Homo sapiens: one gene and its partner. The protein of the gene in region 1 interacts with the protein of each later gene in a biochemical or structural test. Each region holds a gene or a part of one and is shown on either strand. Other genes may lie near its edges.

Region 1 (3,018 bases):
TGGAGGGGGTAGGAAAGGAATTCTGCGTTGCTAACGCCTCGCAGAAAATAATGTGGCTAAAGAGGGAGGCAGCTACATTTGCTCAGAAAAAGGGAATTCTTTTCCTCCTAAATTAACCCCTTCCCCCACCCCCACTCCCATAAGGGTTAAAGTTACCGGCAGCTGGGGTCGCTTATTACATCCGGCTCCCCCGCGCAGGACGCTGCTTTGACGCCGTGCTTCGATTCGGTATCAAACATCCTGCCATCGCGGTATCCTGCCAGGAAAATATCCTCCCGGAATGTTCATTGCTTAAATCTAAACATGTCTGTCTGGTCCAGGCAGGGATGGAAAAGTCTTAAGCAAATGCAGAGCCAGGCACCACCGCCAGGGGAAAGTGACAACACCCATGGCCTCAGAGCCCGTGGTCTTGCGCCACGTCTGGCCTCGCCCATGGGGGGCGGGTAGGGTTGGGGAGGTTGGCACAGGGTCTTTTGGGGGGAGGTGACCCGCACTCCTCACCTGCACGGCGCACGCCAACCTCATTTGGACCCGGTCCTGAACCGGGCGCAAGCGCTCAACATCCAGGAATGCACCACTTGCTTATAAAAGACATTTGGGGCCAGGTGCGGTGGTTCACGCCTGTAATCCCAGCACTTTGGGAGGCAGAGGCGGATGGATCACCAGGTCAGAAGATCGAGACTATCCTGGCCAACATGGTGAAACCCCGTCTCTACTAAAAATACAAAAAATTAGCCAGGCGTGGTGGGGCGTGCCTGTAATCCCAGCTACTCGTAAGGCTGAGGCAGGAGAATCGCTTGAACCCAGGAGGCGGAGGTTGCAGTGAGCCCAGATTGCGCCACTGCACGCCAGCCTAGAGACAGAGCGAGACTTCTTCTAGAAAAAAAAAAAAAAAAAAAGAAAGAAAGAAAAAAAAAAGAAATCTCGTCGTGAGTTAATAGCTCTGCGCGGAGGGAGGGGATGGAGAGGGGGTCCTTGATCGCCTCCCAACATTACTGAGCTACATCACCTGAGCAGTTTCTACCCCGATTTCTGTAACGAGCAGTTTTTCTCGTTCTGTGCCGGCGCGCGCGCGCACACACACACACACACACACACACACACGGCTCAGATTCGGCCGCACCCGGCAACCGCTAGGGTGCATGGAGACACATTAGGTTACATAACCCTTCACCGTGTTCGAAACCCTTTCTTGATCGTGTGGGTGGCTCTGAAAAGAGCCTTTGGGTTCAGGACGCCGAGGAACGCCTCACTTGGAGCTGGTGTACTTGGTGACAGCCTTGGTGCCCTCGGACACGGCGTGCTTGGCCAGCTCGCCGGGCAGCAGCAGGCGAACGGCCGTCTGCACTTCGCGGGACGTGATGGTGGAGCGCTTGTTGTAGTGTGCCAGGCGGGAGGCCTCGCTGGCGATGCGCTCGAAGATGTCATTGACGAAGGAGTTCATGATGCCCATGGCCTTGGACGAGATGCCGGTGTCGGGGTGCACCTGCTTCAGCACCTTGTACACGTAGATAGAATAGCTCTCCTTGCGGCCGCGCTTGCGCTTCTTGCCGTCCTTCTTCTGTGCCTTGGTGACAGCCTTTTTAGAACCCTTCTTGGGCGCAGGAGCCGATTTGGACGGGTCTGGCATGATGGCTGAGTCTCTCCAAACAGAAACGCGCGGCGCTCGGAGTAACTCTATTTGTACGTTTTGTATTCAAATGAAGGCTCAGGATTTGCTCACTTCTGATTGGATCAAACGTTGTTCTACGTCATCGCTGGGAAAGGAATACGCAAATTAGGAGTGCCAGGTTCTTTTTCTGATTGGCTACCATAGCCATCCAATCGAACGCCGCGGTCTAGCCTACCTCTGTACCATACATAAGGGCTCGCTGGCCTTCACTGCCCTCTTGTTTTTAGTCTCGCTTTTCGGTTGCCGTTGTCTTTTTTCCTTGACTCGGAAATGTCCGGTCGTGGTAAGCAGGGTGGCAAGGCGCGCGCCAAGGCTAAGTCGCGCTCGTCGCGCGCGGGGCTGCAGTTCCCCGTGGGCCGCGTGCACCGGTTGCTCCGCAAGGGCAACTATTCGGAGCGCGTGGGCGCCGGCGCCCCGGTCTATCTGGCCGCGGTGCTCGAGTACTTGACTGCCGAGATCCTGGAGCTTGCCGGCAACGCGGCGCGCGACAACAAGAAGACGCGCATCATCCCGCGCCACCTGCAGCTGGCCATCCGCAACGACGAGGAGCTCAACAAGCTGCTGGGCCGCGTGACCATCGCGCAGGGTGGCGTCCTGCCCAACATCCAGGCCGTACTGCTGCCCAAGAAGACGGAGAGCCACCACAAGGCCAAGGGCAAGTGAGGCCGCCCGCCGCCCCCGGGGCCCCTTTGATGGACATAAAGGCTCTTTTCAGAGCCACCTACTATCTCGAGAAAAGAGCCGCACTGATCCTGCAGTTCTTTATAGGCCGGAGGCCTGATCACCCTAGGCTCATGAATGAGCGCAGTGGCCATGGGGAAGGGCGCAACGGGAACCGAGACCCTGGGGACTGATTGGGCTGCATACTTGCGAGGTGGGCAACGTGTTCTGTTAACAACAGGGAACCCTCGTCCACAGGTGGCCACCCCTTGCTCTTGAGTCCCACCCAAAACCTCTAGTAGGGTTTTAATAACGCTCACCGTAAAGGTGTCTTCATAATTACTAGTGACAAGTTCTCTTGACTCTAGCAAGGTTCCCGTGTGGTCATCAAGTACAGAATGCAATTTCTTAATGATTTATCTGATATTAAAAGTATTTATGATCTCTAAGTAGTTTGCACTTTAATTCTGAAGAGTAAGTCTATGGATTTCTATTTAAATTGCTAAGTTTTAACAATGTGAGCTCCACCAGTGTTAAGATTTAATTTATTTGGCTGGGAATTCTAAAGGTCATGAGGAAAGTTTCAGTACTTAAAAGGAACCAGATTAGTAGATGCTGAAAGGTATAAACCTTTTAAGAAGACTTAATTTGGAATAGGATAATTATTTAAAGGAATTTAGTTTGTT
Region 2 (3,754 bases), about 130 Mb from region 1:
AATTTACCATAAAAATATGAAATGTTAGCCTGGGGAATGAGAAAATCACTGCCTTGGGTTCTTCATGGAATGGCTCATTCATTTGACATTATGGAGCCAGGTGTTGGGTGTGCACCTGTAGTCCCAGCCACCCAGGGAGGTTGAGGTAGGAGGATCACTTGAGTCCCAAGAGTTCAAGGCTGCAGTGGTCACTACTGCACTCCATCCTGGGCCAACAGTGAGACCCTGTCTCAAAAAATAAAATAAAATGATGAAAAATATATTTATTTAGAGTTTTTTTTCAGGAATTCCTCATAAAAATAAGATGCTTTTTTTTCTTTATTGTGGACAATACAAGGGAAGAGAAGAATAAGTGATTTTTTAAAATGCCATCTTATATGTTTCCATTTTGATTTAATTACTTGATCTTTAAGTGATGATTTCTTTTTCAGTCTGAAGTTGACAAGCAGCAGCATAGACCCTGGTCTGAGTATCAAGCAGTTGGGTGGTTTGTATATTAATTTTAATGCAGATAAACTACAGTCTAACAAGAGAACCCTAACACAGATCAAGGAGAAAAAGAAAAATGAGGTAAGTTAATTGTGCTGTTAGGTTTTCACAGAACTAACCAATCACTTTTAGAAATTAGTCCTTGGTAAAAGACTTAATTTTCCTACAGTGAAACCACATTGGCCTAATGTGTTAGTTTTTTCCTTCTCTCTAAAACAGTCATTTCTTTTTACAATAAAATCCTATCTATGAATGATAATGCTTTAAAAATAAATCAATACAGGGTCAGTGTTCCTCATCTTACACCCACCAATTATGATCCCAGGGGTTTTGTTTTTTTCCCTTTTCTTGCTATACTTTTAGTTCTTAAGTTCTTAACTAGTGTAGACTGTTGAGAATCTGAAAGCTGTGAATGCCTGCCTGCCTCTTCCACCCGGAAAAAAATGCACATGTGCATATAGACATTTTACATATAATTTCAGAAGGAATTACTGTTAAGGTAACTTTACCCAAACCCTTAGCTTTAGCCAACACCTTGCACTGTTTTCTCCTAAATCTATATTTTCTAGCCTTGATGCTTCTCACTGTCACTTTCAGACCTTTAAATCCAAGTACCTATTTGTTCATTTAGATGTCCTCAGGTACTTGACGTCACTAATTCCCCTTTCCCTGCCTGAACCAGGAATCCTCTTCTTGTATTCTTTTTTCTGGCTAATGAAACCAAACTCTCTTTTCCTTTTGTAGTCAGTCACCAAGCCTCTAGGGGAAGATATTTCTCTGCTTCCTCCTTTTCAAGCGACTGTCACCAGCTAGTGCAGGCCTTTGCTTCTCATCTGGACTACTCCAGTGGCTTCCTTATTGATCTTGTTTTCATCTTGTTCTTCAAGCCATCCTCCACACTTCTAGATTTCTCTGTCTAAAAACACAAATCCGGCTGGGCAAGGTAGCTCACATCTATAATCCCAGCACTTTGGGAGGCTGAGGCAGGAGAATTGTTTAAGCCCAGGAGTTTGAGACCAACCTGGGCAACATAGCTAGACCACATCTCTCCTCCCTGCCCCAAAAAACACACCACACACACAGATGTGACAGTATTCTCTTGAATCCTTCAAAGTACCTCTCTACCCCACCCAGCTGTCATCTGCTCTATTCTTGCCACTGAAGACTACTGTAGTTGCCTGAACTTACCCTGCTTTTCCCCAAGCAAGTGCAAAATAATTGATCGTTGCCCTTGGGGAATATTTTACCTCCAGTCCTTCTCACAACCCCTCTGTTTCCATAACATCTAGCATAGATCTGATTCATTGTTGATCATGTGATATATTAACTTACCATCTTTTCTTTATATTCCTAAAACAGGGTTTTTCAGTCTCAGCACTACTGATGTTTTGGGCTGCATAATTTTGTTGTGAGATGTTCCGTGCATAGTAGGATGTTTAACAGCATCCCTATCTTTTGCCCACTAGATGTCAGTAGCATTCTTCCTTATCCTCACCACCACCAAAAATGTCTCCAGACATTGCCAGATGCTCCCAGTTGAGAACCACTGTCCTTGAATGTACTACAGTACTTGACTCACAGCAAACTCTTAATCATTTGTTAAGTAAATATCATGCCCCCTTTTATGAGTGATAGGAAAGCCTAGACGGCTACCTATACCACACAGAAACATCTAGGCCTGAACCTGAATTGTGTGCCTGACTGTTAATTTCTGAGTTGATCATTTCAAATGTCAGTCCCAAATTAATGCTTGTACTATATTCCTGTAAACTATTTTGAGGGCTACAGAGCAGTCTTACTTGGTTCTTGTACTGAGAAAAATACTAATTAACCTGAGGTTCCTTTAGTCACACAGAGTTTTAGGAGAATATAATCATCCTAGTCAAGTAACAAAAGTACAGAAATCATTTAGGAAAAGATAAACAGATTTGACTGCACAAATTTATTTATTTATTTTGGAGAAATGGCGTTTTCTTATGTTACCCAGGCTAGTCTTGAACTCCTGGCCTCAAGTGATTGTCCTGCCTTGGCCTCCTAAAGAGTTGGGATTATAGGCATGAGCCATCGTGCCTGGCCTTTTTTTTCTTTTTTCTTTTTTTTTTTGGGAGGGAGCTGGGTTTGGGGGGAGACAGGGTCTCACTCTGTCACCCAGGCTGGAGTGAGTGGCACAGTCATAGCTTGCTGCAGCCTCAAGCTCCTGGCCTCAAGTGATCCTTCTGCCTTAGCGTCCTGAGTAGCTGGGACTACAGGTGTGTGCCACCATGCCCAACTAATTTCTTTTCTTTTTTTTTTTTTTTTTACAGTCAGGGTCTTGCTATGTTGACCAAGGTGGTCTAAAACTCCTGGCCTCAAGTGATCCTCCTCCCTTGGCCTCCTCAAAGCACTAGGATTATAGGTGTGAGCCACTTTGCCAGGCTGACTAAAAATTTTAAAACTTACAGAAGTTTAAACTGTTGAAAAACTTATATAACATTCTGACATTATTTTAAAACCAATTTTATGTTTTTATAGCTTCTGCAGAAAGCCGTCATTACACCTGATTTTGAAAAAAACCACTGTGTTCCACCATATAGTGAATCAAAGTATCAACTTCAGAAAAAACGCAGAGTAAGTACAGTGACTTAATTAAAATGCTTAGATATGTTTGGCTATATATTTTCAGCTTATACAACATAACTGCACAATTAAACTGTATCTGTTGGTCTATATATGAGTCCAAAGAAAATAATTACAGATTTCTAAGGGCTGTAAAATATAGTACCATAAACACATTATGTATAGATTTTCACATCTTTGCAGCCACAATAGTGCATCTATAAGTAGAGGTTTTTTAAAAAAATATATATATATATAGATTACTTCTATCTGCCATTTCGACTAGTTATCCAGAGAGCTTGAAGGAAAGTTGAGGATGGTATTCTAGTAATGTTACTGTAATATGGAGCACCCTGGCACATGGTAGGCACTAACTAAATACTTGTTGTATGAATGAAACAAAATTAAATAACTTGTAGGAGTTTTCTAAAGAATAGTATTTTGTTTTATTGTAGAAATAACACAAGGTTCTGGATCCTTGTATGAGTGGCATTCTGAGACTCCTGGGTGACTGAATAAAAATGTTTACATATAAGCTCTAGAAACGAAAGTGTTTTTATACATTTTCTTACTGCATATAGTCTGTTTTAGACAATAAAAATTGAAGTTGTGTGTTATTCTCCCAGCAAGTCAGCAGTTACTCTCTGAGACAGAAAATAGATTTTACGGA

Evidence for each region. The genes of interacting proteins can lie anywhere in the genome.
Region 2: the proteins of H2AC25 (region 1) and DNTTIP2 form a complex in vitro, tested with the Homo sapiens proteins (one study listed by BioGRID).

Annotation. Positions count from the first base shown.
Region 1 is NC_000001.11:228,456,742-228,459,759, reverse strand, and holds H2AC25 (histone H2A type 3), read left to right. Parts: upstream 1-1,886; 5' UTR 1,887-1,942; coding exon 1,943-2,335; 3' UTR 2,336-2,396; downstream 2,397-3,018. Other genes in the region: H2BC26 (histone H2B type 3-B), read right to left, coding at 1,250-1,630. UniProt on the Homo sapiens protein: Core component of nucleosome. Nucleosomes wrap and compact DNA into chromatin, limiting DNA accessibility to the cellular machineries which require DNA as a template.
Region 2 is NC_000001.11:93,872,461-93,876,214, reverse strand, and holds part of DNTTIP2 (deoxynucleotidyltransferase terminal-interacting protein 2), read left to right. Parts: intron 1-431; coding exon 432-570; intron 571-3,000; coding exon 3,001-3,096; intron 3,097-3,754. UniProt on the Homo sapiens protein: Regulates the transcriptional activity of DNTT and ESR1. May function as a chromatin remodeling protein. Part of the small subunit (SSU) processome, first precursor of the small eukaryotic ribosomal subunit.